3 linked regions of the Homo sapiens genome follow. The protein of the gene in region 3 purifies or fractionates together with the protein of the main gene of each other region. This does not show direct contact. Each region holds a gene or a part of one and is shown on either strand. Other genes may lie near its edges.

Region 1 (3,732 bases), on a different chromosome or scaffold from region 3:
AGATTGTGCCACCTGCACTTCAGCCTGGGCGACAGTGAGACTCTGTCTCAAAAACAGAAGAAAACAAAACAAAACAAAACAAAACCCTGTAAATTACTTGAATGCCCACTGCTGAGGGAATTACTTATTGAACCAAAATATGTTCAAAATATGGCATGTCACACATAGAAGAGTGAGGTGTGCATATATAACTGGAAGATTACAAATGGCCTATTGAAAAAAAGAAAATAGTGTTAAAAGTATAAAGCTATTAAAAAAAAGTAAATGTCCCCATACCCAAGGAGAGAGACGTACTAACTAGAAGTCGAAGTTGGCATTCTCCTTTATTGTCCTCCCATGCACCCATAAAAACCAGGCACTTTATCTTGGTATGGTAGCATGCCTGTAATACCAGCTCCTCAGGAGACTGAGGTGAGAGGATCACTTGGTCCCTGGAGTTTGTGACCAGCGAACAGTGATCACACCACTGCTTGCCACGCTGGGCGAGAGTGAGATCTCAAAAAAAAAAGCAAAAACACAAAAGTCACCTGTACGTTGTGAGAGATACCACACCAAACTTTGGGTGGCCTCAGAGGTCAGATAATAGAGACTGAGGTGAGGGACTAGTAATTGTTCTTATTTAAAAAAAAAAAAAAGAAGAAAAGAGAAGTCCATAATCCCCCCAGCAAATTCAGAAAAACACACACACCGACCCCCCGCCGCCGCCCCACCCCGCCGATAAGAACAGGCTGCCAGTGTTGAAAAGGTAATACACCACAAAGGAAATGCAAGCAGATAAACATATGAAAAGATGGCAGTCACAAGCCAAGGCAATGCAAATCAACAAGCTTTTTTCCATCCCTAAAATTAAAGGAAGTTTATCCGCCCTCCCAACCCCCAGTCCCTTGAGGGAAGTGCTAAACATTTCTTGCCCTTTCCAACCGGTGCTCTCCTGTATTGTATACTTTTAAAGTAACCTCCTTAAAATACAAAGCAGAACTTGGGAGTACACTGGTGAAAATCTCCGGTCTCCCTAATCACTTTTTTTTTTTTGGCAGGGTCTTGCTCTGTCACCCAGGCTGGAATGCAGTGATGCAATCATAGCTTAGAGTAACCTTGAACTCCTGGGCTCAAATAATCTGACCGCCTCAGCCTCCCAAGTAGCTGGGACTGCAGGCAGAAGCCAGGACGTCTGGTCCCTGAGCCCTTTTGATGGCTACCATCCAACCCTGAGACAAAATTTGCTAAACTTGTACCAGCCTCTGCTTTCTTCTTGATCAGGGATTTTGAACCCAGAGTGCCTGGGTAGTGTCTGGCTAGAATTCAGAGTATCTGATATCTTGGATGTGAAAAAGGTCACATATATTTATTGTCATTAAACGCTAATCATAATTTAGCATTTAGCATTTGAGGCTGGGAGCAGTGGCTCATGTTTGTAATCTCAGCACTTTGGGAGGCTGAGGCAGGTGGATCACCTGAGGTCAGGAGTTTGAAACCAGCCTGGCCAACATGGTGAAACCCCGTCTCTACTAAAAATACAAAAATTAGCCGGGCATGGTGGCGTGTGCCTGTTGTCCCAGCAACTCAGGAGGCTGAGGCGGGAGAATCGCTTGAACCCAGGAGGCAGAGTTTGCAGTGAGCCAAGATTGTGCCACTGCACTCCAGCCTAATCCACAGAGTGAGACTCTTGTATCAAAAAAAAAAAAAAATCAGCATTTGATACAGTTAACAACAAATAATAAATCCCACCGTGCCCGGCTGTAATTTTCAGTTTTAAGCCAGGCATGGTGGTGCGTGCTTGTATTCCCAGCTACTCAGGAGGCTGAGACAGGAGTTTGAGTGTAGCCTCGGCAACATCGCAAGACCCTGTCTCTTTTAAAAAAAATAACTTAATTTCGAGTTTCTCATTGCACCTGTCATGTACTATAGAGTGACTCTTGGAAAACACATTACCCAAAAAAGGTAGTGTTAGATAATAGGGCACTGGCCAGATTAATTACTGAAAAGGTCAAAAAATCCCCAGGGTCACTATGAATGTGGCCAGGGTGGATATTTGCCCCTGCACTGGCTGTAATCAGGGTGTTCAAACACTGGAATGTGTTTTGATTTGCATTCTCCTGACTAATATAATCTTTTTGTGTTTACTGTACATATGGTTTTTGTATATGTGTTTACAAAATTGGATTGTACTCTATATTTTCTGCACCATTTTTTCCCTCTAGTATACCAAAGACATCCTTAACCAATGGGTATGATTCTAATATACTCTTATTATGTATGGTATAATTTTTATATGTACGTTGAACATATTGTATGCACCATATAGAGTATATATATCATAACATGGTGTATATATATATAACAATGTATATTATGGTTATGATTATTTGAGACGGAGTTTCACTCTTGTTGCCCAGGTTGGAGTGCAATGGCGTGGTCTCAGCTCACTGCAACCTCCGCCTCCCGCATTCAAGCAATTGTCTTGCCTCAACCTCCCGAGTAGCTGGTGGAGCCCGCCACCACGCCTGGCTAATTTTTGTATTTTTAGTAGAGACGGGGTTTCACCATGTTGGCCAGGCTGGTCTTGAACACCTGACCTCAGATGATCCGCCTGCCTTGGCCTTCCAAAGTGCAGGAATTACAGGCGTGAGCCACTGTGCCTGGCCATAATGTATATTATAATGTATATTTTATAAATTAATGTATTTATGTACTTATATATAGTTATATCTATTCTATATAATCCCATCGTGTGCATAAATCATCATTTGTTCCACCCTTCTCTTATTAAAGGACATTGTTTTCTAGTATTTTTTGGCCAGAAAAAACTCAGTACTAAAATTTCTATTCATGTATTCCTAAGTGTACAGGTGGTTTCATTCCTAATGGTAGATTCTCAAGGGGAGAGTATATGTATTATTTCTGACTTTAATAATAGGCTTTTCGTTTCCTGAAATGTTTAATAACTATTCCTACTTCTGATGGGTAAAAGTGGTCTCATTGTTTTTTTATTATGTACTCAACTCCTGGGATTGGGCCACCTTTCACATGTTTACTATTGATTTACATTGTCTTTCCTAAAAATATTTTATTTAGTTTTAGTTTATTTGTTTTATTTTATTTTTATTTTTACTTTTTTTTTGAGATGGAGTCTTGCTCGCTCTGTTGCCCAGGCTGTAGTGCAGTGGCGTTAACCCTAATTCAACCTCTGTCTACCGAGGTCAAGTGATTCTCCTGTCTCAGCCTCTGGAATAGCTGGGATTACAGGTGCCCGCCATCATGCCCAGCTAATTTTTGTATTTTTAGTAGAGACAGGGTTTCACCATGTTGGCCAGGCTGGTCTGGAACTGCTGACCTCAGGTGATCTGCCCTCCTCAACTTCCCAAAGTGCTGGGATTACAGGCATAAGCCACTGCAACCGGCCTCAAGTACATTTATTGTAGCGTTTATTGGACACAATAAAGGCACAATTGTTATCAGAAAAATTTGTCCTTATGTGCCTGTAGAAGTTTACCCTTGTTTTCAGCTTTCTGTGTCATCTTGGCAAGTCAAGTAGAAGTCTATTTCACCAGGGAGAGCTCAGTGGTTTTCCTTAAGGATTTTCAGTTTAAAAAAAAATATTAGAAGCATTATCAGGCTAGACCCGGTGCCACTGCACTCCAACCTCGGCGAGTGAGACCCTGCTTAAAAAAAAAAAAAAAAAAAAATTAGCATATTCAAACATCAATAAAAGTAAGAACTCATCACCTAGAT
Region 2 (3,500 bases), on a different chromosome or scaffold from region 3:
ATTTTTCTTAATGTTTCTGATGGCACTTTGGTTATTGGAATTCATTAGAAATACTGTTCAGATTTTTATTTAGTAAGTTACTTTTATTGAAATATAGGCCCTTGCATTATATTGAAAAGATACACTGTGGTTTTGGCTGGTTGCATTGCCATTCTCCCTACCTTGCTCTGGCCCTTCAGCAAATGGGCTTAAGTGGAAACCTTTGCATGCTAAAACGCCTCTTAATAGACGAGAGTATCAAAGTTGACTTGAATGATATAGAAAAGGATTTCATGTGGCTGTTTTTTCTTAAAAGGCTTGAAGTGCTCTTGAAAAACATTTTATGAGACAGAACCCCACTCTTTTGTAGATGAAGCATCTGAAACCCAGAGGCACTAAAAGGCTTTGCCCAGGATCACACAGTTTGTGATAAAAGTCAGCCCTTTGTGATTTTTGTGCTCTGCCACTTTTGGCTTATGGTGGCACCTTTCTAAAGATACAGAAGGTTTTTTTCAATAAAAAAAAAATATTGTCTGATTTTTTAAAAATCGCAGTTTGGCCCTCTTTTTCTTAAGGACCAATCAAAAACATCTTCATGTTGCCTTGGAAAGTCTAAGATTGTTAGCAGGAAATGTTCCTTGAGGTCTGCCGCTACAGTTGCTTTTGGTGTTCCTTATTCTTGAAAAGGTGTTTCTTTCTTAATTAAAAAAATGAAAAGATAAATAGTTAGAGATATGGCTTGGCTTACTGCTATTTCTTTTCAGACAAATGTAGTGTTTATATCTTGAGTCTAGTTTAAAATATTTGTAGTATTTAAAAAATGCTTGAAGGTTGCAACTTTTTTTTGTCAGAACACTGGAAAGTTGTTACAATCAACATTGATGCACACCCTTCGTCTTCCCCCTTCACAAGTTTTTTGGTTTTTTAAAAACTTGCATAACAGAAATTTGGCATCTTTCTAGGATTGCAAAGAAGTTACATCATTACTGAAATCTAGCCCATTATTAAGGTTGTCACTCACAAATAAGCTTTTGCCAAAGAAATTGGAATTAGCAAAGATCTTTTGACAGAAATTGGATTGTTGTGTTTCATGTTAGTCTAAATTTTCTTCCATTTTTGTCAGTTATGCTATAATCTGTTCCCCTGATTACCGTAGTTCAGAGTGGAGGGAAAAAACGTAACTTCTCAAATTCATAGCTTAGTGCAGTGATCACTTTTATTTTTTAAGGAAAGCAGTGTAGTTTTTTTGTGGCAAGTATACTTTGAAGTGGAAATAGGGACAAAAAGCTTTATTATAAAATCCTATTGTACATTTTAAAAAATGATTTTATCTGTTTTTATATTATATTCTTAATTGCAAAGGTAATGCTTTTCTACATCTGGAATTTCGTTTTATTAGTTTGAAAATCTTTTTGAAAATCAAATTACCACATTTTCAAATTTTGTCAGCAAAATTGAAGATCTGTGTGATCAGCATATGAGTGCTTTCATTGTGTGTCCTACCAGAGTTAGACGACTTAGTTGAAGTTTTGCATTGTGGACATTAATTTTAACTTTATATCCATGTTCAAAGTCCTTAACTTAAAGCTTCATACTGGATAAAGGTCATTTTATAACTTAGAAAACGAACATTCAAAGAACATGTTTTACTTTGTTTATATGATTAAATAACTTATTTTATGTTAATTGAAAACAAATGGCCATGATTTTAAAGTTGCCTTTTAGTATTTGTGGTTGTCATTTGAAATTATCCATAACCCTTGCTTTTATTGAGTTTCAAACCCTTTTAAAAACAGCAGCTATGTTTCCCCTCCTTCCCCATTCCCCCTCGTTTCAGACAAAAGACTGCATGCTGGCGAATGGCAAACTGGATGAGGATTACGAGGAGGAGGATGAGGAGGAGGAGAGCCTGATGTGGAGGGCTCCGAAGGAAGAGGCTGACTATGAAGATGATTTCCTGGAGTATGATCAGGAACATATCAGATTTATAGATAATATGTTAATGGGGTCAGGAGCTTTTGTAAAGAAAATCTCTCTTTCTCCTTTTTCAACCACTGATTCTGCATATGAATGGAAAATGCCCAAAAAATCCTCCTTAGGTAGTATGCCATTTTCATCAGATTTTGAGGATTTTGACTACAGCTCTTGGGATGCAATGTGCTATCTGGATCCTAGCAAAGCTGTTGAAGAAGATGACTTTGTGGTGGGGTTCTGGAATCCATCAGAAGAAAACTGTGGTGTTGACACGGGAAAGCAGTCCATTTCTTACGACTTGCACACTGAGCAGTGTATTGCTGACAAAAGCATAGCGGACTGTGTGGAAGCCCTGCTGGGCTGCTATTTAACCAGCTGTGGGGAGAGGGCTGCTCAGCTTTTCCTCTGTTCACTGGGGCTGAAGGTGCTCCCGGTAATTAAAAGGACTGATCGGGAAAAGGCCCTGTGCCCTACTCGGGAGAATTTCAACAGCCAACAAAAGAACCTTTCAGTGAGCTGTGCTGCTGCTTCTGTGGCCAGTTCACGCTCTTCTGTATTGAAAGACTCGGAATATGGTTGTTTGAAGATTCCACCAAGATGTATGTTTGATCATCCAGATGCAGATAAAACACTGAATCACCTTATATCGGGGTTTGAAAATTTTGAAAAGAAAATCAACTACAGATTCAAGAATAAGGCTTACCTTCTCCAGGCTTTTACACATGCCTCCTACCACTACAATACTATCACTGGTAAGGAGCCCACGACCAGACTTCATTTCTGGGAAAATGAGACTTTGTGTTGATCTCATCGTGTTGGCCTTGTAAAAGTGATCTATGCATGTACAGTGTTCATGCTTAATATTCAAGGGATGGGGCGGGGAACAAAAGGAATAGAAAGAATTCTTTTCCTTGTTATTTGGGGAGCACGTATTGCTTTATAACTTTGGTTGTTGGGAGTATGGCTATCATATACCCTCATCAGTGTCATTTTATATCTGCCTAATTAGAGAAATTTTAACCTTAGTATTTTGATGTGTTTTCCCCATTTTATCCTCCGCAAATATCTTTCTCTTGCCCATTCAGTGCTGCTTTTGGTTTTTGATTTAGTTGTATATTCTGGATGTATTTCCACAGCCTTTTATTGTTCTTCCTGGACAAAAAGACCCCTCCTTTAGGGTCTTTTTAAAGATGGATAGATTAAAAGATTAAAAGCAATGATTTCACAAGAAGGTTGCGTGGCCCTTGCTGTGACTCTGCTGTCATCTTCTACTTCTCACTGTGCTCTGTATTTGCCCCTCTTTTAATAGACTGTCAACCCATTAGATTAGAAGGGAGAACAAGCCCCTCACACCCAAATCAGCTTCAGGCTGTGAAACACAGCTGAAGTTTACATTTCAATTTCTGTATCAGAAAAATAAGTGCCTGAATTCAGAACACCAAAGCAAAGTATAAAGTTTGTAGTTTATATAATAAAAGCAGCGTAGGTTAAGGTGATCAGCAAAATGTAAAAACCAAAAAGTGAAAAACTATCTGACTCTGGACTGG
Region 3 (3,732 bases):
CTTGTCTACACTCACACCCCAAGGGCGGCAGAGCTTGCCATCGCTGTCACCCTCACTGCCGAAGCTCAGGCCCGGGAGCCCAATGCCCACGTAGCTGCGGCCTGACTTGACCACCACCTTGAAAGGGCTGTTCTCAATGTGCTGGTTGCACAGTGTCACAGATACCAGGTGCTCACCCTCCAGCTGGGGTCGGTAACTCACCACGTATGTCCCATTCTGCTGATCACTCACCTCTGCACCAAACAGGTTGCCATCAGGGCCCAGGACCACAGCCGACATCAGGTCGCCTCCTGAGAGGCGGGGCTCACCATCGTGGTCATAACCAATGACTGTGAAGGAGGCCACCTTACCCTGGAGGGCACGCTTGAGGCCATCGCCTGTGGCCTTGGTGAGTGGGGCAAAGGCCCCGCTGCTAACAAAGCCAAAAGACTTGATGGCAAGGTACAGTGCCTGATCGGGGGGTGTGAACATGACTCGGTCGTCTTCCTGGGGCTGCAGGAGGCTCCGCACGGTCTTCAGCTCCTGCACCTGGGCCAGCATCCGGTCTCGGGCCAGTAGGATGTCTAGCGCTCTACCCTCCTCCAGGACCTGCTGCACGGCACTGATGGTGCTCTCAAGCTTGTTGAGGTTTTGCCGCAGCTTCTCCACCTGCAGGTACAGAGACTTGGCTTTCACCTGGCGGATCTTTTCTACCTGGAGGGAAAAGCAAGAGTGGAGAAAGACACAGAGGCTTAGAGCCAAGCACAGAAAATACCACATAAGCCACAACTAATCACAAGGAAGCATCAGACAAACACATATTGTGGGATGGTCTACAAAAGACATCTGTCTTTCTTCAAAAGCAGCAAAATCAAAATGGACCAAAAAACCTGAAGAACTGTTCTGGGTTACAGAGGATAGTTACTAGAAACAGGACAACTATATGTAATTAGTGACTCTGGACTGGAGGGAGTGGCTAGCTATGAAAAGCACTGTTGGGACAATTGTTGAACCTTGATTATGGACTGAGGAGTAGATGCTAGTACTGTATCAAAATCAAATTTCCTGATTTCTGTAATTGTAATGTGATTAGGGGTAAAGGCATTGTGTTTCCAATATGCCAACTCACTCTCAGATCACAAACATATATACACATACATACATACATACATACACACACACACACATACACGCACGCCTCATGCCTCTAATCCCAGCACTTTGGGAGGATGAAGCAGGCAGATCACCTGAGGTCAGGAGTTTGAGACCAGTCTGGCCAACATGGCAAAACCCTGTCTCTACTAAAAATAACAAAAATTAACCAAGTGTGGTAACAGGTGCCTGTAATCCCAGCTATTTGGGAAGCTGATGTGGGGAGAATCGCTTGAACCCGAGAGGCGGAGGTTGCAGTGAGTAGAGATCACACCATTGCACTCCAACCTAGGGAACAGGGCGAGACTCCGTCTCAAAATAATAATAATAATAATAATAATAATAATAATAATAATAATAATTGGGACAAAACGTACATAATCAGTAAATCTGGAGAAGGAATATATGGAGTTACTATTACTGCAACTTTTCTGTAAGCTATAAATTAAAAAAAATAAAAGTTAAAAACAGCCATCTAGAGCTGGGCACAGTGCTGTGCACCTGTAATCCCAGCTACTCGGGAAGCTGAGGTGGAAGAATCACTTGAGCCTAGGAGGCTGAGTCTGTAGTGTGCCATGACTGTGTCTGTGAATAACCACTGCACTCCAGCCTGGGTAATACAGCAAGATCCCACCTTAAAAAAATAGCAAGATCCCACCACCAAAACCAAAAACAGCCATTTGACAAAGGAGTGTACTGAGCACCTACACTTTGCCAGGCATTGGAGGTACTGCAGTAACCCACAGAAAATATAAAATATGGTCCTTGCTCACACAGAGTTGTAGTTTAGAAAAGCAGTATTCAAAAGCAAACGAAGAAATAAGGATCATGTCAGATAGTGATAGGTGTTAAAAAGTAGAAAAAGGATGTGAAAGACAGTGTCTAGGGGCCCTGATACAGACAAAGAGCACTGAGGGACAGTGCCTTTCACAAGTTCAGACCTACAGGTTGAGACTAGGCAAAAGGCCATAGGGAGAGCTATCTCAGCAAAGGAAACAGCAAAGGTCCTGCTGTGGGCACAGGCTCAGCATTTCACAACCACAGCTTTCAGTAGGGGAGTGACATGACAGATTCATATTCTTAAAGAATTAGTTTGGGGCCCAGCACAGTGGCTCATGCTTTGGGAGGCCAAGATGGGTGGACCACCTGAGGTCAGGAGTTCAAAACCAGTCTGGCCAACATAGTGAGACCTTCTCTGTACTAAAAATACAAAACTAGCCGAGCGTGGTGGCAGGTGGCTGTAATCCCAGCTACTTGGGAGGCTGAGGCAGGAGAATCGCTTGAACCCAGGAGACGGAGGTTGCAGTGAGCCGAGATCGTGCCACTGCAGTCCAGCCTGGGCAATAAGAGCGAAACTCCGTCTCAAAACAACAACAACAACAACAACAAACCGCAAAAGGATTAGCTTGGGAAATGTGTATTAAAGGAGACCACCACCACAGGGCACCTTTTTTTTTTTTTTTTTTTTTTTTTTTTTTTTTTTTTTTGGTAGAGATGGGGTCTTAATGTTGCCACGGGTGGCCTCAAAATCCTGGACTCAAGCAATCTTCCCACCTCAGCCTCCCAAAGTGTTGGCATTACAGGCGTGAGTCACTGTGCTTGGGCCAGTTTCTCTTTACTTCTGTATTTTAAGAATGGTTTTAAAAACCCAACTGGGAACCTGAGAAGCCCTGTACCCCAAATTTTAACATAGCACGCTTTTGGCATGTCTGTATTATTTCCAAAAGAGCCCTTTAAATCTAAAATGCTATAATATATATGGACATGGATTCTAACCTGCCAAAATAATTCCTGCTTGAGGTTCTCAAACCATGCTATTTAGAAATATGGAATTTTGTTTTACCAATGAAACATTAGTTTCTCTATTCTTTAAAAGTTCTCTAATTCTAAGCAATTTCCCCCTGTGAAGCGAATGAACTTATCCAAACAGTTTTCACAGAGGACCATGACTTGAGTTGTTCTACAGATCTGAAAGCCATAGAAGGCTATTTCAGAATAAGCGTCCACTGTTGAAAGAGCTGGATTTCAACCTGACTTTCCCTTTAGGGTGGGAGGGGTGATTATATGATTTCGACTCATTCCTGCTTTTTCATCTGTTCAGTGAACCAGGATACATGTGTATGGAGAGGCCCACGTGGGGACAGATTAAAGAATATTTGCCCATTAGGCCAAACCTCCACCTTTGGTTCTTACCCATGAACTATATATATGCAGCTAACCCCATGAGGTAGCCAAGTCCACTGGAAATACATAAGGCCCAAGAATGAAGAGAGGCATCTGGATATTTACAACAGGGTTATCTTAATCCTTGCACTTATATATCTTAAAGTAACCAGAGATGCAGGAAAACAAAACTTGTAACAAAGAGATGCCCAGACAGAGACAGGCAAAGTAAGAGGGATTTGCTGGGAAGGAACAGAAAAAAAAAAAAAAAAAAAAAGTCAGTAATTAGTCAAAGAGAGAGGGACCCCACAGGATTTGGAGCAAGGTTCTATAGCAAAAGTATCCAAAATAAGGAAGCTTATTTTGGAATGCTCTGAGGATGAATTTTTGGGCAAGCAGAAACTGCTTACTACAATGAAGAAGGGATGGACTCTTCTT

Evidence for each region.
Region 1: the proteins of TRIM71 (region 3) and L1TD1 purify together in Homo sapiens (co-immunoprecipitation; one large-scale study listed by IntAct). This does not show direct contact.
Region 2: the proteins of TRIM71 (region 3) and DICER1 purify together in Homo sapiens (affinity purification with western blotting, with the first as the bait; one study listed by BioGRID). This does not show direct contact.

What each region holds. Positions count from the first base shown.
Region 1 is NC_000001.11:62,197,826-62,201,557, forward strand, and holds part of L1TD1 (LINE-1 type transposase domain-containing protein 1), read left to right. Parts: intron 1-3,732.
Region 2 is NC_000014.9:95,095,030-95,098,529, reverse strand, and holds part of DICER1 (endoribonuclease Dicer), read left to right. Parts: intron 1-1,816; coding exon 1,817-2,705; coding exon of another isoform or gene 2,706-2,758; exon of another isoform or gene 2,759-3,184; intron 3,185-3,500. UniProt on the Homo sapiens protein: Double-stranded RNA (dsRNA) endoribonuclease playing a central role in short dsRNA-mediated post-transcriptional gene silencing.
Region 3 is NC_000003.12:32,887,321-32,891,052, reverse strand, and holds part of TRIM71 (E3 ubiquitin-protein ligase TRIM71), read right to left. Parts: intron 694-3,732; coding exon 1-693.